4 linked regions of the Homo sapiens genome follow. The protein of the gene in region 4 interacts with the protein of the main gene of each other region in a pairwise test. Each region holds a gene or a part of one and is shown on either strand. Other genes may lie near its edges.

Region 1 (7,713 bases), on a different chromosome or scaffold from region 4:
TCTCCAAAAAATACAAACAAACAACAACAACAAAAAAACCCCACAAATTTACGGCAAGAAACTTTACAGATCTTTTGCATTAAAAGGTTGATCTCTATCAAGGGGAAATAGGCAAAATGCTGATGTGAGTGTATTCCATTCTCTGCCCTCTTCTCCCTCCCTGTCAAACAAGAGAATCATTTGAGTATATGCTCCTCTTGCTTTTTCTTAAGAGCGGGAGCAGGGGACAGGCAATGCTGTGGTGTCAGGTGGACCTAGATTTAAGTCCCCATTATTCTACCTAGTCTCTATGTGACTTTGGAAAAATTAAAAGTCAGGGAATCTTGGTGGCAAAATAAACTGGAATGTGATTCTTGGTGAGTGTCTTCACTGTCATTCTACAAGGACAGACCAGACTAGATATTTAATACATAGTGAGAATCTTTTCACTGTGTCAGAGGCATATCTGGTTTTCCATATGCATATGCCTCTGACACAATGAAAATTTAGCAGTGAAGTGTAAATTGCCCATTGCTAGTCTGACATGGCAGCCCAGAACTCCAGTGCACAGCATCTAATAATCCTGAACTCATTGGCTATAATGCACCATTGTCATCTACAGACAATAACGGGTTTTTTGTTTTTAAACTGTAGCTGTGTCAGCGTGTTATGATGCCGTCCCGTACCAACCTGGCTACTGGAATCCCCAGTAGTAAAGTGAAATATTCAAGGCTCTCCAGCACAGACGATGGCTACATTGACCTTCAGGTAAATGCAGAAGAGAACTGACAAGACTGACTGGCTGTGTTTCTGTTAAGTTAGCAGGAAGACCTTCCAGATGGAGATTTTGCTAACTGTCCTTGGGGATTAGAAGGAGCAACAAGAAGAAAACTCAGCTCTGAGACCCTTTCAGCCATAATCGCAGAAGAGGGCCGTGGCAGGGTAGTTTCAAACCAATTCCAGTATTGTCCATTTCTAAGAATTTTTAGTTGTAATGCGAGAGCCTTGTAGTTACAGGTTTTATTTACTTTATTCAGAAACTAATCAGATTGTGTTTTGTTAAGTGGAGTTTTTTGTTGTTGTTTCTTTTTTTAAGGAACTTTAAAATTTTTGTTAGGTGGAATTTTTTTTATCACTGTTTATTTACACTTTAGTCAAAGCCCGTTCACCTTTTAAGGGAGAAACTTATTACTAAAGCCAGCAGATTGTGGGAATCTTCCTTCTTTCCTGATGTCATGAGATCCAATTTATTAAAGGTATTCTTTGTGATAAATAGTAAGTAAAACACAGTATTTATTAAGTTTGTATCCTACCCTAACCATTTATAAACTAGTCAATACTACAGCATCTCCTTTTGCACACTTCCCCTTACAATAGAATGTTCTACGTGGAACTAGGGCCAACGAGGAAGTAGCAGGAAACCATCCTTTATAAATAAATAAATTACTCTTTGGACCCACATTTGAAGGAGAGATAAAAATAGATCTGGAAAGATCTGGGAAGCTTCCAGCCACTTAGGTCAGATACAACGATGAGCCAAACCTTGGAAAATTTGTCTCTGAATCTTAACCTTGAATTGAATTTGTTCATAAGGCAGGTTTACTTGCTATGTGGAACAAACAACTAATCATTTGGAATAAGCTGAAATTGCCTTCTTTTCCTTTTTTTTTTTTTTTTTTGGAGACGGAGTTTTAGTCTTGTTTCCCAGGCTGGAGTGCAGTGGCACAACCTCGGCTCACTGCAACCTCTGCCTCCCAGGTTCAAGCGATTCTCCTGCCTCAGCCTCCCAAGTAGCTGGGATTACGGGCATGCGCCACCACGCCCAGCTAATTTTGTATTTTTAGTAGAGACAGTGTTTCTCCATGTTGGTCAGGCTGGTCTTGAACTCCTGACCTCAGGTGATCATCCTGCCTCGGCCTCGCAAAGTGCTGGGATTATAGGCGTGAGCCACCTTGCCCAGCCTCTTGTTTTGTTTTGTTTTGTTTTTAAGATGTAGTCTTGCTCTGTTGCCCAGGCTGGACTGCAGTGGTGCAATCCTGGCTCACTGCAACCTCCCCCTCCTGGTTCAAGTGATTCTTGTACCTCAGCCTCCCTAGTAGCTGGGGGATTACAGGCATGCACCACCATGCCTGGCCAATTTTCGTATTTTTAGTATAGATGGGGTTTCGCCATGTTGGCCAGGCTGGTCTCGAACTCTTAACCTCCAGTGATTCACCCACTTCGGCCTCCCAAAGCGCTGGAATTACAGGCGTGAGTCACCGCGCCCAGCCTTTTTTTTTTTTTTTTGAGACAGGGTCTTGCTCTTTTGCCCAGGCTTGGGTACAGTGGCACAATCAAGACTCACTGTAACCTTGACCTTCTGGGCTCAAGTAGTCTTTTCACCTCAGCCTCCTGAATAGCTGGGACCACAAGCATGTGCCACCACACCCAGCTAATTTTAAAATTTTTTGTAGAGACAGGATCTCTTAAATCCCCATAAGTTAGTACAGCCATCTATGTGCCAGGCAGTTAATAAATATATATCTAACAAATGAATGACTGTAAAGTCATTTCTGTTTTTGTTTTAAAGAAAAGTTTCTTATGATACAATGAATGATTTATGGAATGAGATTCGAACTAGAGTGAATGACATTCCTCTGAGATTCCTTTGAGTAACTGTGAGAGCAATAACTAGAGCTTCATCTCTTGCCAGTCCCTTTTATTTCTCAGAGCTGCACTGGGTGGTAGGACATACTTAAGACACATAAAGTATCTAGTTTGGTTCTTAATTACCCTCCTGTTTTTGCTGTTGTTGTATTTGAAACAGGCTCTGGCTCTGTCACCCAGGCTGGAGTGCAGTGGTGCAATCTCAGCTCGCTGCCTCTTCACCTCCTGGGCTCAAGCCATCCTCCCAGCTTAGCGTCCCAAGTAGCCGGGACTGCAGGCACATGCCACCACGCCCGGCTAATTTTTGTATTTTTTGTAGAGACGAGGTTTCACCATGTTGCTCAGGCTGGTCTCAAACTCCTGAACTCAAGTGATCCGCCTGCCTCAGCCTCCCACATTGCTGGGATTACAGGTGCGAGCTCTCCTCCCTGTTTTAAAGTGTTTGAGACTGGGCTTGATGGCTTATACCTGTAATCCCAGCACTTTGGGAGGCAGAGGTGGAAGGACTCCCTTGAGCCCAGGAGTTGGAGACCACCCTGGGCAACATAGTGAGACCTCGTCTCTACAGAAAAATTTAAAAATTAGCTGGGCATGGTGACGTATACTTGTAGTCCCAGCTACTTGAGAGGATGAGGCAAGAGAATTGCTTGAGCCCAGGAGTTCGAGGCTGCAATGAGCTGTAATTGCACCACTGCACTCCAGCCTGGGTGATAGAGCAAGACTCCGTCTCTAAAATCATAAAAATTAGGCCGGGCGCGGTGGCTCACGCCTGTAATGCCAGCACTTTGGGAGGCCGAGGCGGGCGGATCACCTGAGGTCAGGAGTTCAAGCCCAGCCAGGTCAACAAGGTGAAACCCTGTCTCTACTAAAAATACCAAAAAAATTAGCTGGGTGTAGTGGCGGGCACCTGTAACCCCAGCTGCTCAGGAGGCTGAGACAGGAGAATCACTTGAATCCAGGAGGCAGAGGTTGCAGTGAGCCAAGATCACGCCATTGCTCTCTAGCCTGGGCAACAAGAACGAAACTCCATCTCAAAACAAACAAACAAAAACATAAAAATTACAAATAATTAATTAAATGTTTGAACCCAGGTATTTGCATTAATGTTCTTCGTTGTCTTTTTCATCTCTATTTCTCTTCCAGTTTAAGAAAACCCCTCCTAAGATCCCTTATAAGGCCATCGCACTTGCCACTGTGCTGTTTTTGATTGGCGCCTTTCTCATTATTATAGGCTCCCTCCTGCTGTCAGGCTACATCAGCAAAGGGGTAAGCTGACGGGCATGTGGGAATAAGTTGTGAGATTTTTAAAATGTTAGCCAAGGCTCTAGTGTGCGTGTGTGTGTGTGTGTGTGTGTGTGTGTGTGTGTGTGTGTGTTTGTCCGTCCCAGTGGTCTGTTTTTTTTGAGACAGGGTCTTGCTCTGTCATCCAAGCTAGAGTGCAGTGGCACAACCTTTACCTCCCTGGGCTCAAGCGATCCTCTCACCTCAGCCTCCCGAGTAGCTGGGACTACACGTGTGTGCCACCACACCCAGCTAATTTTATTTTTTATTTACTTATTTTTGTTTGTTTTATTTTGTGTAGAGACAGGGTTTCACTATGTTGCCCAGGCTGATCTCTAACTCCTGAGGTCAAGCAGTCTGCCTGCCTCAGCCTTCCAAAGTGCTGGGATTGCAGGTGTGAACCATTGCCCCTGGCCAATTTTTTTTCCAATTTTTATGGGTACATAGTAGGTGTATATACTTAGGGGATACATGAGGTATTTTGATACAGCCATGCATTCATAATAATCACATCAGGCTAAATGGGGTATCCATCCCCTCAAGCATTCATCATTTGTATTACATTCCAATTATACTTTTATTTATTTATTTATTTTGAGACAGAGTCAGGCTGGAGTGCAGTGGCATAATATCGGCTAACTGCAACCTCCGCCTCCCAGGTTCATGCTATTCTTGTGCCTCAGCCTCCCGAGTAGCTGGAATTACAGACGTGCGCCACCGCACCCGGCTAATGTTGGTATTTTTAGTAGAGATGGGGTTTCGCCATGTTGCCCAGGCTGGCCTCCCAAAGTGTTGGGATTACAGGCATGAACCACTGTGCCTGGCCTATTTTTAGTTATATATATACATATACACATACATACATACATACATATATATATATTTTGGAGACAGAGTCTTGTTCTGTCACCCAGGCTGGAGTGCAGTGGCAGGATCTCAGCTCACTGCAAACTCCGGCTCGTGGGTTCAAGTGATTCTCCTGCCTCAGCCTCCTGAGTTAGCTGGGACTATGGTGGCAAGCCAGCACACTTGGCTTATTTTTGTATTTTTAGTAGAGATGGGTTTTTGCCATGTTGGCCAGGCTGGTCATGAACTCCTGACCTCAAGCGGCCTGCCCGCGTGGGCCTCCTAAAGTGCTGGGATTACAGGCGTGAGCTACCACGTCCAGCCTTAGTTATTATATTTTTAAATGTACAATAAATTATTCTCTAGTCACTTTGTGCTATCAAATACTAGAGCTTATTCATTCTATGTAACTATATTTTGTACCCGTTAACCTTCCCCATTCCCCCCTACCTTTCCCAGCCTTTGGTAACCATCATTCTACAATATCCATGAGTTCAATTGTTTTAATTTTTAGTTCCCGCAAATGAGTGAGAACATGGAAAGTGTGTCTTTCTGTGCCTGGCTTAATTTCACTTAACATAACGTTCTCCAGTTTCATCCATGTTGTTGCAAGTGACAGGATCTCATTCTTTTTAGTGGCTGAATAGTACTCCATTGCATATATGTACCATATTTTCTTTATTCACTTGTCTGTTGAAGAACACTTTGGTTGCTTCCAGATCTTGGCTGTTGTGAATAGTGCTGTCATAAATATGGAAGTGCAGATACCTCTTTGATAAACTGATTTCCTTTCTTTTGGGTATATACCTAGCTGTGATTGCTGGATCATATGGTAGTTCTATTTCATACTGTTCTCCATAGTGGCTATACTAATTTACATTCCCATCAACATTGTACGAGGGTTCCCTTTTCTCCACGTCCTCGCTAGCATTCGTTATTGCCGTTTTTTTTGGATAAAAGCCATTTTGGCTGGGTGCAGTGGCTCACGCCTGTAGTCCCAGCACTTTTGGAGGCCGAGGCAGGAGGATCACTTGAGCCCAGGAGTTCGAGACCAGCCTGCGCAACATAGCGAGACCTTGTGTCTATATTTTTTAAAAAGCCATTTTAACTAGGATGAGATGATATCTCATTGTAGTCTTGATTTGCATTTCTTTGATCAATGATGTTAAGCACCTTTTCATATACCTATTTGCCATTTGTATGTCTTCTTTTGAGAAATGCCCATTTTTGATTGGATTATTAGATTTTTTTTCCTACAGAGTTTGAGCTCCTTATATATTCTGGTTATTAATTCCTTGTCAGATGGATACTTTGCATATATTTTTTCCCATTCTGTGGGTTGTCTCTTCCTTTGCTGTACAGAAGCTTTTTAACCGGATGTGATCTCATTTATCTGTTTTTGTTTTGGTTGCTTGTGCTTTTGGGGGCATTACTCAAGAAATCTTTGCCCAGTCCAGCATCCTGGAGAGTTTCCCCCATGTTTTCTTATAGTAGTTTCATAGTTTTAGGTCTTACATTTAAGTGTTTAATCCATTCTCATTTGATTTTTGTATATGTCAAGAGATTTGAGGGGTCTAGTTTCATTCTTCAGCATATGGATATCCAGTTTTCCTAATACCATTTATTGAAAAGACTGGTTCTTTCCCCAGTGTATGTTTTTTTGTTTTTTGGTTTTTTTGTTTGTTTTTTTTTTTTTGAGACAGAATCTCACTGTGTCATCCAGGCTGGAGTGCAGTGGCACCATCTCGGCTCACTGCAACCTCAGCCTCCCAAATAACTGGGACCACAGGCATGTGCCACCACACTTGGTTAATTTTTTTTTCATTTTTTGTATAGATGAGGTTTTGCCGTGTTGCCCAGGCTGATCTCGAACTCCTAGACTCAAGCAGTCCAGGAGTACAGTGGTGTGATCACAGCTCTCTGCAACCTCAATCTTCAGGGCTCAGTCGATCCTCCCACCTCAGCTTCCCAAGTAGCTGGAGTTACAGGTGTGAGTCACCATACCTAGCTAATTTTTTTGTTTGTTTGGTAGAGATGAGATCTCATTATGTTGCCCAGGCTGGTCTTAAACTCCTAGGCTCAAGCAATCCTCCTGCCTCAGCCTCCCAAAGTGCTGGAATTACAGGCTTTAGCCACTGCACCCCTCTGACTATGTTTCCCGTTGTGTGTTAATTATGGTCAGTGTGAGGCCCACCCTAGCCTCCCAAAGTACTGGGATTACAGGCGTGAGCCACCACACCCGGTGGATGTAGAATTTTATCAAATGCTTTTCTAGCATCGATTGAAATAATCATATGGTTTTTGTCCTTCATTCTGCTGATACGATTTTATCACATTGATTGGTTTGTATAAGTTGAACCATCCTTGCCTCTCTGGGATAAATCCCACTTGGTCCTGATGAATGATCTTTTTAATGTATTGTTGAATTCAGTTTGCTAGTATTATCCTCCTTATTGAGGATTTTTGCATCAATGTTCATCAGGGATATTGGCCTATTTTTGTTTTTTCGATGTGTCTTTGCCTAGTTTTGGTATCAGGGTAAAACTGGCCTAGTAGAATCAGTTTGGAAGTATTCTCTCCATGTCTGTTCAGAATAGTTTCAGTAGGATTAGTATTCTTTTTTTTTTTTTTTTTTTTTGAGACAGGGTCTCATCTGTCATGCAGGTGTAGTGCAGTGGTGCGATCTCAGCTCACTGCAACCTTTGCCTCCCCGGCTTATGTGATCCTGCCACCTCAGCCTCACTAGCAACTGGGACCACAGGCATATACCACCATGCCCATCTAATTTTTGTATTTTTTGTCAAGACAGGATTTTACCATGTTGACCAGGCTGGTCTTGAAATCCTGAGCTCAAGCGATCTGCCTGCCTTGGCCTCCCAAAGTGCTGGGATTACAGGAGTGAACCACCATGCCCAGCCAAGTATTAATTCTTTAACTGGTATAATTCAGCAGCGAAACCAT
Region 2 (7,713 bases), on a different chromosome or scaffold from region 4:
AACACTTGACCTGGAAAAGACAAAGGCTAAGTGGGGAAGACACACTGTCTTTAACTTGAGGATCATGGGAATGCAGCCATGGGGGCGTTAGAGGGAGGGGGCTGCCACTCAAAGATCTAAGTGAGATCTCATTGTGCAAGATTGAGGCTATAAACAACTTCAGATAAAGGTTGGAATCAATTCCGGCCTTGTGGGCCTTCACTGGAGGAAACCAGGTGTGAGGATATTCCTAACCACCAGGGTTGCTGTTAAGAAATGCCCACCCCCCCCCCAAACAGCTCAGCATTAGAGTCCCACAGTCTCTGGAGCAGGCCTCAGTAGAGGAGAAAGCTACTGAAACCACAGCTTGGTATCAGGTCTCCCCAGTCACCCCGTGCCAGGTCCTGGTGCCAGGCTGAGTTCCTTCTTCCACATCATCTCACTTTCATAATTGCATTTCACTCTCACAGGTCTCCCTGGGCCTCTGGCCTGACCATAATACCCTTGAATCACAACCCCTGGGATCAGCACAGTTGTTCTGGGAAAGAAGTGAGGCATAGAGGAGATCCTTGCCCATATTATAAAATTCCCTTCAACTCTTTCTCTGGCCCTTGATCTATGGCCCTGGCCATACTAGCCATGCCTTTAGCAAAGCCCTGGTCTCCCCACAAGGACTCTGGGTGCTACTTACTCAGGTGGTCGGGTGTCTGGCCCCAGGGACCTCTGCAGGGAGATCCGGTCGCTGGCAAAGGCATTGAAACAGTGCTTCTTATAGCCTTCTTCCTTTTCCTGGGTCTCCAGGGGGGTCCACTTGCTCTTCTGAAATGCTTTTCCATCTGCCCCAGGGGCATTGGGGTCCTGTGGTGGCCGTTCCCAGAAGGGCTTCAGTTCAGCTGGGGTATAGAACCCAGGGAGGCAGGACTGGTTTATGGAGAACAGAGTCTGCTGGGCTTCTGGAGCCCTGATTTGGAGCTTGGGCATTGAATCTCTAAGGTTGTTCATGGCCTCCAGCATGAGGTCCAGGACGTGATCCTTCCGGCTCACCAGGGACTTCAGCCACGGCTTCTCTGTGGCCTCCTCTCTGCTGCTCACATCCCTATGCAGGAGGAAGAGGAAGAGCACAAAGGCGCAGCCCACCATGGCCAGGCGCAGGGGCATGTGGCGTCTGCGGAGGAGCCTCATCCTCCAGAACCAAGGGGCACCCCAGCTGCGTCAGCTCTGAGTCCTGAGCCCAACCCTGGAGATAGCTTGATACGTTGTGGTGGCCACAAGCTGGGGCCTCAGCCTGAGAAAGGAGGGGACAAGAGAGAGAAGTGAGCCAACACAGGGTAAGGAGGGAGTCGGGTGCTTGGGGTTCGAGGCCAGGCTCTGTTGCTGAGTGGTGGCATCACCTTATTGGCCACAACTTTCCCATATCTACATTTCCTTCATCCATAAAATGAGGAGACCGGAGGCAGTGTTTCTTTCCTGCCCTAAGATCCTAATATGCATGGATCTAGAGTCACTGGAACACTGAAACACTACATGAGATTTAATCATTAAACTCATGAGATTTAATCATTATGGCTTTGGGAAACAACTTGGTATTATCAAGAAAAATTTGAAATGAACACAGCCTGAGCCAGCAATTCCACTCCTCATTTTATATCCCAGACAAACTCTGGTAGATGCAAACCAAGAGGTATGTACAAGAACATTTAAGCCAACACTGACTTAAATGGCAACAAACTGGTAAAACCTTTAAGTCCACTAGCAGAATGAATAAATAAAGTGCAAAATACCCATACCGTGCAGTGCTCTACAGTGATGACCAAGAATGAACCACTTCTCCATGCAACAATGTGGATGTGTTGTTGGGTGAAAAAAGCAAGTGACAAAAGGATACATACAGTATGATTCCACTTATAGAAAATGTAAAAACATGCTAAAATTAAACAATATCTTGTTCTTGAATACAAATATGTGATAAAGCTATAAAGAAAGCTAAAGAAGACTAGCCTGGCCAACATGGTGAAACCCTGTCTCTACTAAAAATACAAAAATTAGCTGGGCGTGGTAGCGCATGCCTGTAATCCCAGCTACTTGGGAGGCTGAGGCAGGAGAGTCACTTGAACCCGGGAGGCAGAGGTTGCAGTAGGCTAGGATCATGCCACTGCACTCCAGCCTGGGCAACAGAGCAAGACTCCGTCTCCCCACGAAAAAAAGAAAGCTAAAGAAATGACATAACCAGTTTCTGAAGATGAAGAAAACGGTACAGGATTAGAGATGGTTAATGGGGGACTTCAAAGTGTTTTTTTCTCAAAGTGGATGGCGGCTGCTGGTGGACTGTAATTCTTTAGACCCTATACGTATTTTATAAATATTTCTTGGCCAAGCATGGTGTAATCCCAGCACTTTGGGAGGCTGAGGTGGGAGGATCGCTTGGGCCCAGGAGTTCAAGACCAGTCTGCTCAACGTATTGAGAGCCCATCTCAATAAAAAATTTTAAAAATTAGCGAGGCGTAGTGGTGCACACCTGTAGTCCTAGCTGCCTGGGAGGCTGAAGCAGGAGGACTGCTGGAGCCCAGGAGGTTAAGGCTGCAGTGAGCTATAATCGCACCATTGCTCTTCAGCATGGGCGAGAGAGAGATTCTGTCTTTAAAAATAAATAAATAAAAGTTATCTGTAATCTACTCCTATTTAATAAAAAAGAATTTAACAGAAACCTAAGATTTCATGACAAGACATTCCCGGCAGGGCTGGGCATGGGCGTTCACCAGGCTCCACCCCCAGGCATGTGGATCCATGCCCTAGAGGATGAATGCTTGCAGAACTTTCTGTGCAGAGTTCTGGACACATAAGCTCACTGGTTAAGCACTAGACATCAATGGCAAGGGACCTGGGCACAAATTCCAGTTCTTCCTCTTCTAGTAGTAGCACCTACCTCCTAGGGTTGTTACAAGGATTATGCTCCTTCCCCACAAAATTCATGGACAAAGCTTAGCAGTCTCTGCACATGGTAAGTTCCCACAAAGTGTTAGTTTTGATCATTAGCAGCTGTGTGACCCTTGGGTAATTTACTTAATCCCTCTAAGCCTCAATTTCCTCATCTATAAAGTGGGGGCAACTAATACCTAACTCACAGGGTTGTGGGGAGGATTAAATCAGATAATGTAGGTAAAATGTTTGGCAGAGCACCTGTCACACTAAGCCCTCAATAAATGGTATCAACTATTTCTATTATTATGATAAATCCCTGCTTCACTTCCCAGCAGTTATCCTCAAGCACCTGGCCCTTGGCCAAAGCCACGTTCATTACTCCCTGCATGTTTTGCTTAAAAATAACTCTGGTTGTACTATTTAATGCTATTGTTTAAACGCACAAGCTCCTGCCTGTGGAGAGGCCTGGTGTCTGAGACCTTGGGAGTATGTGGCCATCGTGATCTCAAGTGGGGAGGTGGATTCATTCTGGACTGGGGTACAAATGTGGCTTCTTTTATAACATCAGATTCAGCAGCACCGTCAAAAATCAAACAAAAGAAATCTCTTTGAGCATCTATTTTGTATTAACTATTGTCTAGGAGATAGGAGAGATTTGTTTATTCCACCAGTATTTACTGAATAACTGCCTCTACCAGGTACTCTGCAAGAGGCGGGGGACACAGAGAAGTGCAAGGCCAGCCCTCAAGGATCCTACAGTCAATTGGGGGCATCAGATTTTAAACAGAGATTACCCTGTGAGAAGCAGAATCAAAGAGGTACCCTTGAGTGCTGAAGGAGCCGGCATGCAGGAAACTCAGCAAATGGGGGAGGGCAACATCTGTGAAGAAATCTCACGGGGGCAGAAATGGGCCGAACACTAACTGGCGAGTAGGAGTCAGCGAGGCGAGGTGAGCACATTTCAGGCAGAAGGCACAGTACCTGCAATGGTCTAGAGGTGGGAGACAGAAGAGCCAGTCACAGAACTGTAAGCAGTCTGGTATGGCAGGAGTAGCAGAAATTGGGCCTACAGAGGTGGCTGAAACCAAGTCCTAAGGGCCTTGTTCATCATGCTGAGGAGCATTTGCCCTTGACCCAAGGCATGGGGAGTAATAAAGCGTTAAGCTGGGAGCCCAGCATTACAGGAAGAGCAATATGACAGCGGTGGAGGGTATCTTGGAAAGGGACCTGCTTGGCAGCTGGATGACCCATTCGGAGTCTGACCCAGGAGAGTTAGTAGCAGTGTGGATGGAAGAGGGAGGGTATGGTGCCTAGGAAGACCCCCTTGGGTGATGGGGTGGGACAGTTTACCCCGTCTGGTACACAGAGGGACACAAAGGCTCAATTCCTTTCCCCAAGGGATTTGAAAATCTTATTGGAGAACGAGAACTGATAGCACTGACCAGGTGAAGGAAGCACCTGACCAGGGGAGATTCAGGAGCAGGAAAAGGACCTTTCACTGAATACTCTTTTGTACTTTGAACCCTGACTATATTACTTATTCAAAAATGAATAAAATTAAAGCAGAATAGCACAGACAGTAAGAGCTAAGCTGAGAGAGGTAGAGTTCCCTGTGGGTTTGAGGAAGGCTTCGGGGAGGAAATGGGGATTCAGTGTAGCAGGAGTTTCTTGTCACAGAGGTTGAGCTATGCTGGGGCTAGCACAGGGGGATTTGCTTGAGCTAGACACCTCATCAGTTCTGGAACTGTCCCGGCTAAGCCCACACAGAGGCCTGCAGAATGGGGGAGTGTTTGCCATGACAGCTTTGAACCGTCCTGCAGGCTTCGTCTTCCCTGCTACTTTCCATCTACCTTCCCACTCCAGCAAGAAAGAGGGAGCACAGTTAGAAACAAAGGCATGGTAAGATTGTAGTTACTAACTGTTGCCAGTGCTCAAGACTCACCCCCTCCAGGAAGGCCTCCTGACTGATTCACTCAGAATCACCTAGGTTACTCCAACTCTTTCATCCTGGCACTGCCTCGTGGTCCCTCACAGCAGGGCCTGTTTTTGCTTCTTTTATTTTCCCTGGAGAAAGAAATATAGGGTTAAATTGAGCTCTTCCTAGGCATCTAATCTCTCAATCCCATCTGGCTGCCTGAAGCTTTCTCTCTCAAACCTACAGTTCCTCAAGGTACTAACCACATCCTGAACCGAAATGAGACACCTGGGATTAGCCTTGGTGGTGAGGCACTCATTCTCTAGTTTGTTTGCTTAGCATGAGGGCAACAGGAAGAGTCCCTTAGAAGAGACACAGAATCTAGTGCAAGCCACAGGACTTTGGGGTTAAGGATTTCTGCTCCCTGTGTAGGAGATGATTCCCAGAAGTATGGTTAGCAAGGTCGTGGAGGTCGCCCCTCCACCAGCCTTGGAGAAAGAATAGCTGCTATTCTTTGCTATTGTTTCAAGTACAAAGCTTCACGAGATCCGCCCCTGGTGTCTTGTATATCTCCCTCACCTTTGGGCTCCCACACCTGGCCTCCTGCTTTCCTGGCAAGTGTGCCCGCAGCCCCCATCCACTCATTTCCCTCTCGCTGTGGCTCAGCACTTCTTCCCAAGTCTTTTTCCTCCAGCTACCCTTGGGCCTGCAACTCTTTGGACCATCCTTGGCTTTGATCCCGAGATGATGCCAGAAATCCTCTCTGAAAAGCCTGCCTAGATTGAACAAATGGGATTTGCTTCCCTGGCCCCACCGGCCAGAACACAAACTTACCTTCTCTCACTGGTGTAAGGAACTGAGGCTTTACCCAGCCCAGCTTGTATCAAACTGCTGATTACAATCCACTGTGATATTATAAAATAAATTCAGAGTGTTGCAAATTAGCATTCAAAAATTTCTTTAAAAGACCAGTTAGGACCAGGCACAGTGGCTCACACCTGAAATCCCAGCACTTTGGGAGGCCATGGTGGGCAGATCACTTTAGGCCAGGAGTTCAAGACCAACCTGGCCAACATGGTGAAACCCCTTCTCTACTAAAAATACAAAAATTAGCCAGGCATGGTGGCATGTGCCTGTAATCCCAACTACTCAGGAGACAGAGGCAGGAGAGTTGATTGAACCTAGGAGCTGGAGGTTGCAGTAAGCAGAAATAGCACCACCGTACTCCAGCCTGGGTGACAGAGCAAGACTCTGTCTCAAAAAAAAAAAAAAAAAAAAGACCAATTAGCAAAAAGAGACCAGTTAGCTGGGTGTGGTGGCATAGGCCTGTAATCTCAGCTACTTGAGAGGCTGATGCTGGAGGATTGCTTGAGCCCAGGAGGTTGAGGCTGTAGTTAGTTATGATCATGCCACTGCACTACAACCTAGGCAATAGAGCGAGACCCTGTCTCAAAAAATAAAAATAAATAAATTTTAAAAACCCAGAATAGAATGAAAAGAAAATATCAAAGTGCATCATGTATCACATGTAACACAGGCAAGTATTCGTTTTTTCTTTCTTTCTTTTTTTTTGGAGACAGGGTCTCATTCTGTTCCTTAAGCTGGAGTGCAGTGGTGCAATCTCAGCTCACTGCAGCCTTGACCTCCTGGGCTCAAAGGATCCTCCTACCTCAGCCTCTGGAGTAGCTGGGACCATAGGTGTGTGTCATCAAGACCGGCTAATTTTTATTTTTTGGTAGAGATGGGGGTCTCACTATGCTGCCCAGGCTGGTCTTCAACTCCTAGGCCGAAGCAATCCTCCTGCCTTGACCTCCCAAAGTGCTGGGATTACAGGTGTGAGCCATCATGTCCAGCCTGAAAAGTAAACTTTTATTTTAATGTTTGTTTCAGTCTATTAAAGATACACACTGCCTGATACAAAATTAAAATGATAAATTTGTTATTCAAAATTCATACAACTAAAGACAAAAGAAGTTTAAATGATTCCATTTTCAAATGATAGTTTTTATGGTTTGCAGAATTTATGCTTGTAATGTGATTAAATTATAAAACTGCCCTAAGATTTTTGGGATGCCCTGTCACATATACACAGGTACCGGGTCTCGCTATAAAGTATATTTCTCACTTTGGTCAAGTCATAGAAGTTTGAAAGCCAGTGACACAGTCCAAACCCCACAGTTTATATTCTAGCCCCCCTCCAAAAAGCCTTCTCAGATCTCCCAGCAGAATTCATCTCTTCCCTGCTTTGCCCCCTTAGCACCCGATTTTTATTTGTACTCCAGTCTCATCACAGCCCACCCTGTGTTTATGGACTCCTGGACCAGAGAGGCCATGCCATTTCCAGCTTTTTATCACCTACAAAGTCTAGCACAAGTTTTACATATAGCAGGTGTTCCATAAACTTTTTTTTTTTCTCTTGGAGACAGGGTCTCACTCTGTCACCCAGGCTGAAGTGTAGTGGCATGAACACAGCTTTCTGCAGCCTCGACCTCCCAGGCTCAAACAATCCTCCTATCTCAGCCTCCTGAGTAGCTGGGAATACAGAGGTGCGTGCCATCAGGCCTGGCTAGTTCCACAAACTCTTGTTAAATGAGATGAGGTTGGAAGGGTTAAATGTGGAGCACTGGCTTCACTAAATGATGTTCTGAATGAACTTACTGCAAGAAATACTTGACTTACAGGATATTCTGCCATTACACATTAGCTTGCTGTTTTGACTAGGTCTGTCTGTGGGTCTAACACCCTCATTTTATCAACGGCGAGGCCAGAATGGTTAGGTGACTTCTCTAGCAACACACAGCTAGTGGCTCCCAGGAGTAGAACCCGATCTCTCAACTCCTAGACCACTACTCTGTTTACCACACTCATACCCGTGGAGGTTGAGTAGGGAATTTGGGGAC
Region 3 (7,713 bases), on a different chromosome or scaffold from region 4:
AGATGATAGAGAGAATCATGAAGGCCTGCACTGTCTTGAGGGCATCTGTAGACACAGGACGAGGAGAACAAGGGCATGAGGTCACTCCAGGGGCTGAACATTCCCTGACCACACCTATTGTCAGCACTGGGTCAATATCTTTATATATACCTTCACTGGCATATGACAGGCTGTCACTGCAGCTAATGTTGGTACAGTTTTTCCAAAGACCTACTGATGCATCTACCGTATTGGAAACCAACCAGACCTGAAACCAGAAGGAAAGAAAATGTTAATTGAAAGCTGGCCCTCTGATTTAAAAATAAAATAACAAATCAGCTTGCATCGGGATCAGATTTTAATAAAGACATTCTATTTAGCTATAACTATGGCTATGCAGCTTATCTGTGGGCGGAAATAAGGTCCGATTAAAACTGAAGTTCACAAAGTTGCCAAGAGAAGAGACACAGAAGAATGTGAAACCCAGAAAGAAATCACCTAGCCCTCTTTGGGCTCCACATTCTTCACGACTTAACAAAAATGGAAGTAACTCAACCACAGTGGTTTAAAATTCTAAGGTTCTGAGAAACAGAAGTCCAGGATGAGGAAACTGGCTTAGGTATGTGCAGTTCATATACTCTAACAAGATTGTTTCATTTAAGTCCCTGGTTAACCAGGAAAAAAGTGAAATGTCCAACTGGAAACAATTAAGAAACATAAGACCTACTGGGAAAATAACAATGAATCTAGTGGTTAATAAGCCACTTTCATCTAAACAGAAGGATCAAACTTGACTGTCACAACATGCAAAGTAATTTGATAGTAAAATACTACAGCAAGTGCTTTCCTGTAGGGGCTACTAAAAGCTGAAGGGTGACCTGAATGGATTCCCCCAGACTGATCATGGTGCCGCCATCCCTTCCTGCCTGGCCCAAGAAAAGGAATTATCCTTCTGGAAGAGAAAACAAGTGCAGTGTCCTGTCTACACACACACAAATGCACACACTGGAAAGGTGGGGCCGGGAACATGCATCACCTACGCCAATCCCTGCTCTTCATTCAATAAACAACTGTGTGCCTAGCCTTATATTAGGGGCTGGTAATTCACAGATACGCAGCGCTTTGGCGCTCATTAATACACTTTGAAGAAGCTTATCAGATTTATCTGGATAGATATAGGAGTTGACATATAGAATGGCTAAATTACAAAACAAGGAGGTCACGTGGGCGGGGGTTGTCTTATCACAGTTATTCTTAATTAGCCTTGCTTATGATCACACCCACTAATGTTTGCAAAGCTCTTCTATCTGAACTTTAAAACTCACTTATACTTTAACTGTGATAGGGACCTAAACAGATTCTGAAACCATGGTTTGCCTGCCTAGTGATTGGTGGCCTTGGTTTTTAGGTCCAAGGAGCTGGCTTTTTTCTGAGAAAAGCACAAGTAAAAGCAAATTGGGCGCTGTAAGCCACCACTAGAGGTCAGAGTAGCCCAGGGTTCAGAGAGAAAAGACACTACCTCCATTTTTTTTTTCTCGTTTTGTCTGAGTTAGTTAATTCAGTGGCACTGGGTTAATCTTGCAAAACTCCACTTTCACATGCTACTCTTTGCTCAAAATTTGAATTTGTCAGTCTGGCATCCTCTTCTTCCCATCTATCCTTCTAATCAAGCTTCTCAGAAGGAGGGGAAGTTCGGCTCCAGCCACATAGGTGTGTGTCCTCCTTATCCTCTGACCAAAGCTTGTCCTTCCTACATATGCTCCTTTGCTAGCACTCCCACCTGAATGCATCCCTATGATCCTTCCACCTTCCCTCTTTCACTAAGAGAAACCTCAGCCATCTACCACTCCTCCAGGTTCACCTCAAGCTCCACTCACCCCTGCTGCTGGGAAGGCTCTTCTAGAGACCGAAGAAGCTGCACTAGATCCTCCAGCCCTTAACCACCTACAGCTCTGGCAGGATTACTCCTGTGGACATTCACTTTTATCCTCCTGTTATTTAATTGTTTGAAGGGCAAGCGTGTGTTTATTTTGTTTTCCCACAACTGAGCTGTAAGTTCATGAAGGGCAAGGGCTGTGGCTTAAACTTCTTTTGTGCACTTGATGTAAATATTCGAATGATTTCTCAATGAATGAATGAACAAAAGAACATTACTCACATTGGCAATGGTGCTAACAAATAGCATAATAACAGTAGCGATGTGGACCACAAAGATACCAGCCAGCAATACCAACATGTTGGCTCTTTTTTTTTTGGTAACTTGTGAGCAAAGAGAGTTCTGAAAAGAAAAAGAAAGGGACAAAAACGGTTACTGTCAGATTCAATAAGACGACTCAGCTTTCCCACACGTGTGGGCTATCTGCTAACATGAGGAAGAGCTGCACTAAAAACCATCACAATCTAATCATAAATTCCTGAAAACACCCCTGTAACCTAGTTCTGATTTGCCTAAGTGCCTATTCATCCAGTTATACATACCTACATGGAAACAGAATTTGGTTTCTTCTTGGGTATTTACATATTCATTTCTCTAATACATTCTATTTCAAAAAAGGAACAAGAACATTTTATGATAACTGTTCGTATTTTATTTTGTTTGTGTTTTAGAGGTTAAAAATAGGACTTTGATTTTCAAAGAAGTAGGCCTTTATAATTTCCAGGTCTCTGAACAATGTCATATAAATGTCCATTTTCCACTAGGAAAATGTCCATGCTTTCATCAAATTGCTCACCCAGCACTTTTAATAGAAGTAAATGCCTTCTGAAGAATAGCAGCTATTACTCAATGCCCATATACTGAATAGGCTACTAATATGATCCTGGGCGAGATATAAAATGTGAGAGGCACAATTCTATTATTATAATGCTGTTTGGTTTTCAATAATTATAACAACCTAATTACAGTTTAATGGTCTGGTCACCCTGTGACTGAGCATTTCAGACTAGTATTACTACACCTGAGCCTTTGGGCTCTGTGTGCCTCATGGCAGGAAGCCTGCCATTGGTCTGGGCAGAGAGTCATATTTTCCACAGCTCAATGTGATGGTTCTGGGGGCTTTAAAAGTAATGCAACTTGAGATAGCACCAAATGTGCCTTCTCCTTGTACATGACATTTACACAAATTCCAATCCTTCAGGACTCAATACAGAAGACAGGCAAATGCATAAATCACAGGGTGGGAGGATTGGGAACTAATATCGATTAAGAATGTGCATGGATAAACAAAAGCTTTCAGCCATAATCACAGCAGAGAAGGGAGCCCATTGATCATAAAGCCTAGGAAATAAAGGAAGTGTGAAGGATACACATGGGGGAGGCTATTCTGATTTATGTCAGCTACAGAAGGAGAGCTTTGTCATGCCTAAGACTGTCACAAAGCAGTGCAGGCTCAGAGGGACATCAAAAGGAAAGGGCTTGAGGTTATTCACACCCTAGACAGAATGGATGTGTGGATGCCCCAACCAAGGGAGGAGATGGCCAGGCGCATCCTGCAATTGTTCCACTGCCCTCTCTCACTCCACCTAATTTAATTGATGCTTTGAATGTGCTTGAGGCACTTTCATGCCACATCAGGTATTTATTAGAGAGCACTGATACTATAATTCCAACACTTCACATGCCTTTTATCTCCTCTCACTGTCTTTATCAGGCAACCAAAAATCTAGAGTGATCTAATATACATCAGGGTGCCTTGCTCTCTGCAAGCAAGGAATGAGAGGCAGACAATGGCTTCCACCATTCTCCCTGACCGTCTCCAACAGCCCCTTCCCAATCTGGCCACTTCCTTCCAACCCAGGCTGTTTTTTAGGAATGTGTCCAACTTAACTGTGAATGCAAAAATTATGACGTTTATCCTGCCTCTTCAGGGGAGAGGTTGGAGCTTTCATGTCTGCTATTAGTAATCCCCCCACACATTCAAATTCATTTTTGCTTTTCTCAGGTTCTAGCACACCTCCCCAATTTTCTGCTTGACTTAAATGCACAGTAAAAAGAGATTTTTGAATCAGACAGAGGATGAATTAGAATCATATCCAGTTATTTGACCGCTCATCTGTTTCCTCATTTAGAAAGTGGAAGTCGCAATGTCAATTGCAAAGGGAAATGTGAGGATGAATTCAGATTGTTTATGTAAAACACCTAGTGTCTGACACATGGCAGCTACTAATAATGGGGTTGCTTTAGCTGCGGTTATTATTATTACTATTATTCATAAGTGAAGCCGGGTAGCTGTTGCCAACCCAACCCAGTTACTCAATCGCTAGGCTGCCCCATGTTAAGTGCAAGTAATAAGATATCTGCTGTCTAGTTCACGAGGCAGGGTGTATACAATCCTTTCGGTCCTCTTAGAAATTGTCATTTGTCTAACCCTTGCCCCTTAAGGGGGGAGACCTCTAAGAGCACACCCTCAGGAAAGACCAGGAGAAAGTTCACTTTCTCAGCCCAACTTCCTCATACCTCCCAAGATTCACACCTCACCAGATCCTGATCTCCTTGCCCCCTATGGGGAAAGGAACAGGCTGATTGCAGGGAATTACAAATATTACATAACGAATACTTATGTTTAATCCTCCTCGGGCTCTTCAAATGACTTTCTTGTTCCTGTTGCTTCTAATTTACAAACATCCTCTTCTTAAAAGGGGGAAGGGCTGGAGGGGCCAATGACAGAATATAATCCACCAAGTGAGGCCACTTAAATGAGTCACAGAAAACATTCCCTCCCTGATAGGCTGTTGGGAATTCAGCAGCATTTTGTCTCCTTGGGTTGCTCTGTAACCCCTAAAGTCAAGTCTGATTTCCTCTGCCCAGCTCACACTCTCTGTCTCAATGACCCCTCCCACGGCACCTCTACCTGGGCCCATGCATCACAGCCCTGGTGGTGTGTGCGAGTGCCTGGCCCCTGGATCCACCTGACCATATGCCCTGCCCATTGCAGGCTGGAAGAATGGATGTGAGAATCAAGCAAAAGAGCGACTCTCTTTCATCTTAGATTTTTGTGATGGTGCCCTCCCTGTCTTTTCACCACGGAAAGAAGCAAAATGTCTTGAGTTAGCAAGCGGTCTTGTGCAAAACACACAGTTCTCTCTGTTTTTAGCTGCTGTATCCAGCCAGAAGGAGGGGCTGTTTAGCTTAAGCTACAACTTCTCCATCTTTTCACTGGCCCATTATTTGTCAGGTTTTACTAATATCATTCACTGTCAGTTTAGAGGGGCTTCCATTATTTTCAATGGCCTTCCCCCCAACACAGGTGAAAACAGAATGAGTTATCTTCTTGAGTTTCTGGGCTGAATCATCCCTAGTTACCCAGTCTTTACACTGTGCTAGATACCTCCTGCCCCCAGGGAAACCCTCAGTCTGGGAGGAGGCGATCACTGAGGTCTTTATGAAAAAGCCATTAGTGGTAACTAATGGGTAAATGTCTGGGCATTTATCAAATAGCAGAGTATAATAAACAGAAGAACCCCTGCTCCTGAAACTTCCACCCACCCATTACTTGCAAGGTAGCTTGTGGGGAGATTCATTCTCTGCCCCATTGTGAATCTTGCTTCATACAAAGGCACTGAAAAAAATACCATTTATGAGAATTTATACCATTGGAAGTATTGGTGGCTACTACTTATTTCTTAGCAGTGTGTTTCACTAAAACAATAGTAGACTTCTCCCTCAGCCCTCTCTAAAATGATATGGGTGGCACTCTCCAGTGGAAAGCATACCCCTAGTCCTAGTGAGGCAGCGCAAACCAAGATGCAGAGAATCACAGCATTGCAATTCTGAATACTTTGAAGCAAGACCCGCTTTTTGCAGAGCATTTGGTGCACTGAGCAGTTCCAAAGTTGTAGGGGAACGCTCATAACAGCGTTCATTTGTGGTGCTTAGACTCCCAGACCTAGGCCAGCAGAGCTTATCAATTCATTGCATTTTTAAAGAACAGGCCGTCCACTGACTTCTATGTGGATGCCAGGAACACATTTCTGTACCCACCACTGTGAGTGGAGGATGATCTCCTTCTTAAGCCTCATCTACCTAACATACATGGCACAGGGGCAGTTAGGGGCTGGGTGGGAAACTGAGGAAGGTATAGGACCCATGTATGTTGACTCTGGAGAGAAGTATTATTAAGAGAAATGGAGATCAGCACCTCGGAGCCACACACAGGTCTCTGATATCCCTTTTCTGTTCTTCTTTCTGCCCTAACGGACAGGCTTGCAGTTCCCTACCTCTGACCACCATCTTTTGTTTCTGATCACTGTTCCTCCTTTTCTTTCTGCATTGCCCAGACCACACTAGAGCAGAGGTGTCTTTGTGCTCCTAGCTCTAATGCAAACCTCACAAACACTGACCATTCAGTATTCAGATAAAGTTCTTAGCTAACAGAATAGCTAATATAGTCAGTAGAAATAACCCTGAGGGAGTTCGAGATCATCCTGGCTAACGTGGTGAAACCTAGTATCAATTAAAAATACAAGAAATTAGCCGGGCGTGGTGGTGCACACCTGTAGTCCCAGCTACTGGGGAGGCTGAGGCAGGAGAATCACTTGAACCAGGGAGGCGGAGGTTGCAAAAAGCCAAGATCGCTCCATTGCACTCCAGCCTGGGCAACAGAGCAAGACTCCGTCTCAAAATAAAATAAAATAGAACCCTGAGGATTAAAATTGCTCGTGACTATAGCTCTAAAGGACTAACTAATATGAGACATGAGGGAAGGGAAAGAGGGATAACCAAACCTCTCAAGTTATCTCCATCCATTTAAATCTTTATTGGCTTCTTGCCTCCCTCTTACACACCACACACACACACACACACACACACACACACACACAAATGAAAGAATCAAAGGAACACAGCCCTGAGACTGCCATGCATTGCCTTGTTGCCTTTGTTCAGGCAGCCTAACACTTTTAGGGTTCTCTGACCAGTGAGAAATTACTCAGGCCCCCATGGGAGCCTTTCCTTTTCTGGTGGGTAACTAAATCTGCAGAGACTTTGAGAAGAATTGACTTCTAAGGACCAGAAGGGAAGTTTAGAGGTGCATAATTTGGTTCCCTGATTGCTAACCTAGGAGTCAGATAACTTCTTCCTGTCCAGAAGTCTGTGTGTTCACTGAACTGCCATGGGGCCTGGCGGCAGCAGCAATTCTTTAAGAGTGACCTAAAACACAATAACTGGGAGCAACACAATAGAATAGAGCAACCAAAAACCCACTTCCCCAGTGAAGGAAGTGGTCAAAATCCTGGGGCTTGAGTCACTGAAGAATTAGCCCTAGCTGAGGGGTGGGAGGGGAGCATGCTCAGAAATCAGGAGCTGAAGACGATGCAAACACTGGGGGAGGCCCTCAGGGCTCAAATTTCCATGATTCATTTGAGAGTGGGTGAGATTCTCCCAGAATGAAAGGCATCATGGAGACCTTCTCTACAAAAGGGCACGAGAGAGCTTTCTGAGAAGCAGGGTATGGATCTGGCTGGCATTTCCCTGGCAGCTTAAGAAAGGCCAGGATTTTTCTGGGGAGAAAAGAGCAGTAATGACCACTGCCAAATGTCCTATCTTCCCTTCCCCTCATTCCACTTTTGTTGCCCAAAACATCACAGTCCTACCCTGAGTTTCTACCTCCATTACTTATCTCACATCCTTCCTTATGTTCTATTCCCATTGCTACTGTCCAGTTCAGGTCCTAGCCTGACCATGGCATCAGCCTCACCCATGACCCTGTCTCTGAACAACTCCCCTCTAACATATCT
Region 4 (7,713 bases):
ATGAACTCTACACCCGCCCCTGCACACCCTTTGCCCTCAACTCCCTACTCCTGCAAACTGGCTCCCCATTTGCAATGGCAGAGAGAACACTTCTACCGTCCACTTCACTGTCCGGGTCAAACCCTGGAAATCATCTTTGACACTGCCTTCCTCTCATCTAAGTAAAATCACCAAAGGCCAGTGATTTTACTTCCCTAAAAATTCCTAGAATCCATCTCCTTTATTCTCTCCCACTGCTGTGTCTTAGCTGAGGCCCTCATCCTATCTTCCTCGGACAACCGCACCAGCCTCCGCGCTGCCCTCCTGCCTCGAGTTTGGCCTTTCTAACACATACTACCTTCCCACGGCAGCCAAGTGGTTTTCCAGAATGCAACTCTGGTCATGTCATTCCCCAGCTTAGGCCCGGTCAGTGCCTCCACAGAGCCCCTAGGGCCAATGCTAACTCAATTGCTCTGCCAGGGGTCCCAACCCACCTCACTCCAGTTCCATCTCTTGCTACGCCTCCCTCACCCACTTTCCCAACCTCCAGCCACACGGATCTGCCAGGCTGCTCTCTGAAGGAGCCACACCCACACTCTCACCAGGAGGGCATGGCTTTGCCACCTCATCTTTTAACTCTCAGCTTAGCCACCTGTGCCCAATAGCCAGCTCCCCCCAACCCCCCGCCAATGCACTGCATTGTAATCCAATCTTTATTCGTGCTGTCTCCCCAGGAGATGTACGTTCCTTGAACACAGGGTTATGTCTTATACATCTCCATATTCCCAGTACCTAGCTGGGTGCTGGCCAGAGCAGGCTTAGTAACTACATGATTCCCAAAGGAAGAGTAGACCCACTTTCATCTAACAGCACTCTTGCGTAAGGTGGGATAAAGATCATAGGTTCCACATCTAAAAACAGGGAAAGAGGCTTAGGAGGCAAAGTGGCATCTCCATAGTGGTAGTGAGGCCAGAACCCAAATCTAGACCCTCAGCCACAGGTCTTTACTTCTGACTCAGCCTCAGTGGGGCCTGGGCTGGTACCTGGCTTGTCTCAGGCCTCTCATTCCCAGCCTTCCTCAGATCAGCATGGTTCCAACCTGTTTGGTTCAGGGACCACACTGACAAAGCAAAAAACTCTACAGAATGCACCTTCATTACTACCAATGGAAAAATCCAAACCCCTTGGAGGTGTGCAGAGGTGAAGCAGGTGTCATGCTGCAATGCACCTGGGCTCTGTCCTGGCTCTGCCACCAAGTGTCTATACCCTGGGCCCGTTCTCTTCTCTTTGAGATAAAGCGGTTGCACCGGATAATCTTTAAAAGGCCCTTCCAGCTCTGACAGGAGTCCTGCAAGAGTCAAGCATAGCTCCCTTCTGAGCTACAGGGCTGGGTTTCTGGCAGAAGCATCAAGGGTGTGTGATATAAAGACCATGTGTTGGATTAAGAATGGGATGTGCTCTAAAGGACTCTGTTCTCCCAAAAAGCCATATGTGGCATACATGAGTTTATCTAAACCTTTCATGATCCAGTTCCACCTCTGTGTCCAACATGTTATTCCCTGCTCTGAGCAGGTCTCCCCTGTTGTAACCGGAAGTACTGCTTTCAGGCCTTGCATGCTGCTTCCGCTGGGAGCAGCGGAAAAAGGGTCACCCAGGGCACTTGGCTGCCATTCCTGTCCAGAGGCAATGCCATCTTCCCTTCTCCAGGAAGTCTCTACAAGCCTCCAGATTCCTCCCTTACCTGAGCTACACTGGGTCCTGGGTCTAGAAGGTCATACCAGTATTGCAGTGGAATCTATGGATTTCTCACAAGGCCAAGGTGTCAGGGGCAGTTTGGAAGGGCGACCTGAGTTCTTCAATGTGGGATCTTGCTACCCAGGGGAACAGCAATAAGGAGCTGAAATAGTTCTGCTGTCTCCAACTCTCCTGTGATTGGGGGCAATTTATTTAACTTCTCCAGGCCTCGGTTCCCTCATTTATAAATGGAGACTGAACTTGGTCAGTGTCTTTCAAACTGTACTCTTTTGGGACCCACAGGAACCACTGTACGGTGGGGTGGTAGTCAGGGAGGGGCTGAGGGACAGTTCCCTCTCAGGCAGAGCAATTCCGACTTTTATGTTTTATAGATTTTGTTTCCAAAACGGATTTTGTTTGCAGAGAAGTTCTATTTTAACAAGTTTGAAAGGCAAGGAACTAGCCAACTTATTCAGTGCTTTCCTGCTCTGGGAGTGTCTCTAATAACACATCTCCTTGCCGGACCCACCAATGGGGCAAAGCTGGGGTTTTTGCCTTTTTATGCACATATGGTCATAATCTCTCAACACTAGGTGGCAGGATACCTGTAAACACAGGAACATACATGGCTTGGCCATTAAACCTGAGGACCGCATGTCAGATGATTCTGGCTTTACTCTGCACAACCAAGGAGAAGGGTGCAAGTGTTCTTTAGCATGGACCAACGTGACAGCAAAGTGAAAATGTGGCAGAGACCAGAAGACCCACTCAAACTGGCCTCCTCTAACCCTAGCACTGAGGTACTCAGATCAATGTCAAGGCCCCACCCTACCCTTAAGAGGCTCCAGGCAAGCACAGGATGACTCCCAGTCAAGGTCAGTGTCACTGGGTCCTAGAATCCTGGAGTCTTTCCTCCAGCCTCAGTTTACACCCACCACCCTTAATGGAGCTGCCCTGAGGTTCCTGATGTAAGGCTATTCATCAAGCAGCCCCTTAATTCTGACTTCTGAGGGGAAGAAGGAGATAAACTACAGCCTGAGAGGTCTAGACAGGACTCCGTCCTCTGCAGGCATCCAACCTTGGGTTTTCAGGCCATCTATAGCTCCAGGACAGAGAGAGTGTTCCTAAATTTGCAAGTGTCTGCCTGCATAAGGAGTTTGGGATATAGCCTTGTTATCTGGTGAAGGGCTAAGACAGCCCATCTAAGTTTTTACTGATGCTATTTGAACTATAACCACAAGATACAAGGGGGTTACTTGGAATTCTCCTAAGTAGAAGGCTAGTGCTTCAGGAGGAGCCCATTTTCTCAGTCTGTGGTGTAAGTTTGACCATGACTATCTATGTGGCCACCAGTAAGGCATGATAATATACATTAATATCAGCTAACATTTATATAAGCATTTACTGTGTGCCAGGTATTGTTCTAAGTGCTATAGTTACTGACCTGTGCACATACACGCACAACACACACACAAACACGTACATACTTAACACAGAAAATACTGCCACTATTTATAGATAAGGAAATCAAAGTGCAGTGGAGATTAAGTAATTTGTCACACAATTAACAAGCAGCTAAGCTAAATTTGAAGTCAGGAAGGTGGAACACAGAGTCTGTCTATCTAACTAGACTGCCTCTCAGAAAATCACCGACAGTCTCAGAGTTGGAAATTCAACTAGTTTCAAAATTCTCGAGTGTTGCTCTGGATCAACTGCATCCTAAGCACCAAAGGAAAGAAAGGTTACTGCCTCCCCTCACCCTCACTCCGTATTTGAAGAATCAAAATCGAGCAGTGGTGGTGGTACTGGAAATGTGTATTTTCTCAAAGCTCATCTGCTTTGAGAAAGCAGGAGAGGCAGCACTGACCCGGACCTCTCATCTGATGTTGATCTCTTCTACAGTGACCTCAGCCCATCTGTGCTCGGGGCCCTCCAAGAACGGAGCTTCCTGGCTCCCAAAACTGCCTAGATTAGAAATGCTCCCTCAACTCATGCTTAAGTCGGTTTCCCTGAAGCTTTTATCCTTGGCCCCAACTCTACACCAAGAAACCCCACTGAACATAACTGATCCACACCAGTACCTGCTCCCACATGTCCCACCTCCCATAACATGCCAGCTTTCAATCAATCATCGTGTGTCCCCAAGTCCTCTCCTCTTTAGGCTTTCCTTGCTTCCTTAAACCATTCCTTCCAGGACAATGTGCTAAAACTTCCCTTCACCGCACTAGTCTCCTTTCTCTGAATGAATTCTGGGTTATTCTTCTCTTTTTAAAAGTGAGGTACCCAGAAATGAATTCAACACTCTAAATTATTTCTTTGGGCCTCTGTCTCTGCTATTATAAAATGGGAGCAAAATCCATCCCACCTACTTTACAAGGATGCTATAAGACTGGCACAGAATAACACATGTAACACAGCTTTGCAAAAGCATTAGGTATCCTACAGCATGTGGTCAGAATACCTACCTTTGCCAACTTCTCTACTACTATTCTGTATGCATCACTAAAGACCAATATTCAAAGCAAAACAACAAAATCCACTCCTCTAGCCAGGGACCACTCAGCTGGAATTCAGACACCTGGATCCTGTTTCCACAGACAGTTGACAACTATGAAATTGGTTCTGTGACATGAATAATTACTCCTTTGAAAGGCTCTCCATAGGAATGGGAGAGCATGCTTATCCTCCAGGGTCCAAGAACTCTAGTAAACACCCATAACTTCAACTGGGTATAGCAGCCAGGGGCCTGCGTGTAATGCCTTACCAGTCCTTCTGGGATACATTCTGGTTGTAAATGTGCCCACTGATGTTTCTATAAGGTGGACAGATGCATTTGCACCGGATATCTTCAGAACTCTGGAAAAGAAAGCACATGTCAAGTATGCAGAGACCCTGCCTGGGGTTCAGGGGGTTCAGGCTCTAGCAAGGTTGTCAACTTTCTGTTCCCCATCCTGTTAGGTGAACCATATCTATGCTCTTGAGCTTTCTCCATCCCCAAGTTCAAATCCAGCAAGGACTGCCACTGTAGGAAGCAAGCTGCAGCACCGGGTCCTAAAGATAGAAAAATGTCCAGATGGCAAATGAGACTCACAGAAAGTTGTCTAGGCCTGCCAGTCCCAAAGCAGGTACTTAGAGGAATGCGGGGAGAGGGATGAGGGGAAATGGGTGTGTGTGTGTGTGTGTGTGTGTGTCCTCTACCCCAGACCCCACACTTGTGTGTGCACCTCTGTCCAGTGGACTTGGCAGCCACCCTCTTCCCCACATTCCTTCTCCAACTTCTTAGGTAGGATTGGGGAAACATAAAGGGCGAGGGTGAATAAGAAAAAGTGGATCATTTCTGTGGGAATACTCAAGCAACCCCTTTGAAAGTTCTTCCCTTCTGGAATGAGTAAGAGATATCACCATAAATGTCTTTACTAATTAGGATTTCTGAGGAGAGAATGGAAACAAACTCTCAGCCTTAACCTTACTTCAAAGTCTGGATGATCTTTAGTTCCATAGATCTACCCAAACAGCTCCACAGGAATGTAGCAATAAAGAATGGAAGTTATCTCAGGAGTCCCAGAACTTAGGTGGGTCACCCTTAATAATGGAAACTTCAAACTGTATAGGACTTTACACTTACAGGGCATTTTTACATTGTCATGTAATTTGATTCTCCCTAAGCAGAGTAATAGATACAACTGCTACTACAGGTGGTAGTACTAGCACCCCTAAAACAAAAATTCGAAATGCTCCCAATCTAAAACTTGTTAAGCACAGACATGACCACAAAGATGATGTTAACATTGCAGAAAAGCACCTACAGACATGGTAACAATGAGTGACGGGCTTCTTGAAAGACTATAGCAGAGCGCATTCATAACAGAACAAGAAATCGTGTCAGTCTATAAAATCAAAGAGACTTCTAAGACAAAAGCTTGTTAATGAATCAGGTGACTGGCAAAAACATTTTTAAAAGCCATCTGGCAGAATGCCTCCTCATCTCTAGAGGACCCACTTTCTGGTCCCTCTACTGCTTCAGATACTACTTCTCACCTAAAAAAATACTGTGCACAGTAACCTTTAATCAAAACACAGCATCACAGCAGGAGACAGAAAGCCTTATGTTGCTGTGTCTAACAGCTGATACAGGTATTCTGGTGATGCTACTGTGCTTAGTTACCCTGAACACATCATTTATTTTCACTGTGTTAATAGTACATCATATTTTTTTACCGTTAAGAACTTATGTGTAACGTAAGAAAATATTTATCGGTAGCATATAAATTCATTGTCAGGAATGGTGGTGATGCCAACCAACCAGACTATCCACATGGGTGCCTGAGATAGTGACGCCTTTGCTTTCTGATGGTTCAGTGTAGATAAACTTTGTTTCATGCACACAATTATTGAAAATATTGTATAAAATTACCTTCGGGCTATGTATATACAGCATATATGAAACATAAACGAACTTCAGGTTTAGACTTAGGTCCCCTCCCCAAGATAGCTCATTTTTTATGTGCAAATACTCCCAAATCCAAAAATATCTGAAACAAAACATACTTTGGTCCAAAGCAAAGGAAGGTATGGAGAACTTAGATAACTTCTCCAAACTTCCTTGCTGGAAGTCCACCACTGATCTGTCTGATCAGAGTGAGCCAGTGCTCTGTGCCCCACCCTTCCTCACTCCTCACCCGCACTATCCTTAGGGAGGCCAGCAGCCTTGAACCTGAAGGAAGACCACTAAAAGAAGTATGGCCCATAGGTGAGTGAGAGGCAGGCTTAAGGAGCAGCTGGCTACCTCTGAGTCAGCCCTGTAGACAGGGTGGCCGTGCACTGTGGTCGTGACCAGGTGCTGCAGGCTCACCTCCCTCACCTTGTTGGCTTCAGCTGGGGGCACCAGCAAACACCCGACCACAGCCACCAAAGATAAGAGCTTCATGCTTATCAGGCTTGCTGGGCCAGCAAAGCCGGACACCTGGAAAAAGAGATACGGAGTCGGAGAAGGGGAAGGTGGCCACACCGCAGCCAGCACGCTAGGCCCTTAACCATCCGGCCAAGTGGGAATGGGGTTGGGGGCTGGGCTCCAGGATTCCAAGGCCTGCTAAACCTGGTCGCCAAACCCTGCTTCCCTCCCGCCCAACTCTCCGGCTCTCCGCCAGCCACCTGGTGAGCCCGGCAGAGGGGTCCTCGAGGGGACACCGCTGCCAGGGGCCTCCAGTTCCTTCTCAAGGCCCGGCTCTGACCCGCGCATCACGTCCCACCGCCCTCCGCCATCTCCGCCTCTGCCCGCCCCGCAGCTCCTCCCCGCTCGGGCCCGACGGGAACTTTTGGGTGCGAGTCTGGGACCCCTGCTCCGACGGCGAAGGCCGGTGCCCACCACGCCCAGAGGTCTTAAGCCGGACTGGGACCCCCAATAGCCCCGCGACCCCCGTCCCCTCCCCCAATGCCGCGTCCACGAACCTACAAGCCCGCTGCAGCCGCAAAAGACCCAGTTGTCCCCGCCCTCTCCTAGCTTCTATTGGTTGCCAGAGCAGCCCCTTAACCCGACCGCGCTGTCGCCATGGCAACAAGACCCGCCTTCACCTGGGCGGGGAGACTCTTGCGCAAGGGAGAGGCGGGCATTTCTCAAACCCGACCAAACCAGAAAAGGGAACGTCAGCCTTCCAAACTCCTGGGGAAGGGTCTTGCCTTTGTGTGGCCTGAGAACTCCCACTGCGGTGCTTCTCCCTTCCTTGTATTATAAAACTCAGCTTGTTTCATCTTGCTGTTTTAGAAAGAAAGCGCTTTATACACTGTAAGCTAGTAACGTCAACAAAAACGATACGAGATTGAAGGGCTTTGTCCTCATTCAAAATCTGGAAATGTTATTTAGGGATCCACGTCTTTGCTGCAGAAGACTTTCTGCGCGGCAACGTCTCTACCCCTACACACACCTCTGAGAAGGAGAAATCTAGGGTTGGCGATGGGTGGTGTGGGCTGGGCCTGTGAAGAGTGTGCACAACAGCGTCCTCA

What was found.
Region 1: the proteins of TMEM9 (region 4) and TMEM230 interact in a two-hybrid assay, tested with the Homo sapiens proteins (one large-scale study listed by IntAct).
Region 2: the proteins of TMEM9 (region 4) and GALNT6 interact in a two-hybrid assay, tested with the Homo sapiens proteins (one large-scale study listed by BioGRID and IntAct).
Region 3: the proteins of TMEM9 (region 4) and EMP1 interact in binary tests that used the Homo sapiens proteins (3 or more experiments, as listed by UniProt).

What each region holds. Positions count from the first base shown.
Region 1 is NC_000020.11:5,102,366-5,110,078, reverse strand, and holds part of TMEM230 (transmembrane protein 230), read left to right. Parts: intron 1-633; coding exon of another isoform or gene 634-648; coding exon 649-747; intron 748-3,768; coding exon 3,769-3,891; intron 3,892-7,713.
Region 2 is NC_000012.12:51,378,621-51,386,333, forward strand, and holds part of GALNT6 (polypeptide N-acetylgalactosaminyltransferase 6), read right to left. Parts: intron 4,963-7,713; exon of another isoform or gene 4,841-4,962; intron 3,890-4,840; exon of another isoform or gene 3,693-3,889; intron 1,265-3,692; 5' UTR 1,162-1,264; coding exon 671-1,161; intron 1-670. UniProt on the Homo sapiens protein: Catalyzes the initial reaction in O-linked oligosaccharide biosynthesis, the transfer of an N-acetyl-D-galactosamine residue to a serine or threonine residue on the protein receptor. May participate in synthesis of oncofetal fibronectin.
Region 3 is NC_000012.12:13,206,013-13,213,725, reverse strand, and holds part of EMP1 (epithelial membrane protein 1), read right to left. Parts: intron 2,258-7,713; 5' UTR 2,216-2,257; coding exon 2,138-2,215; intron 248-2,137; coding exon 151-247; intron 46-150; coding exon 1-45.
Region 4 is NC_000001.11:201,147,284-201,154,996, forward strand, and holds the start of TMEM9 (proton-transporting V-type ATPase complex assembly regulator TMEM9 isoform a precursor), read right to left. Parts: upstream 7,192-7,713; 5' UTR 6,641-7,191; coding exon 6,575-6,640; coding exon of another isoform or gene 6,500-6,574; intron 4,570-6,499; coding exon 4,478-4,569; intron 1-4,477. UniProt on the Homo sapiens protein: Transmembrane protein that binds to and facilitates the assembly of lysosomal proton-transporting V-type ATPase (v-ATPase), resulting in enhanced lysosomal acidification and trafficking.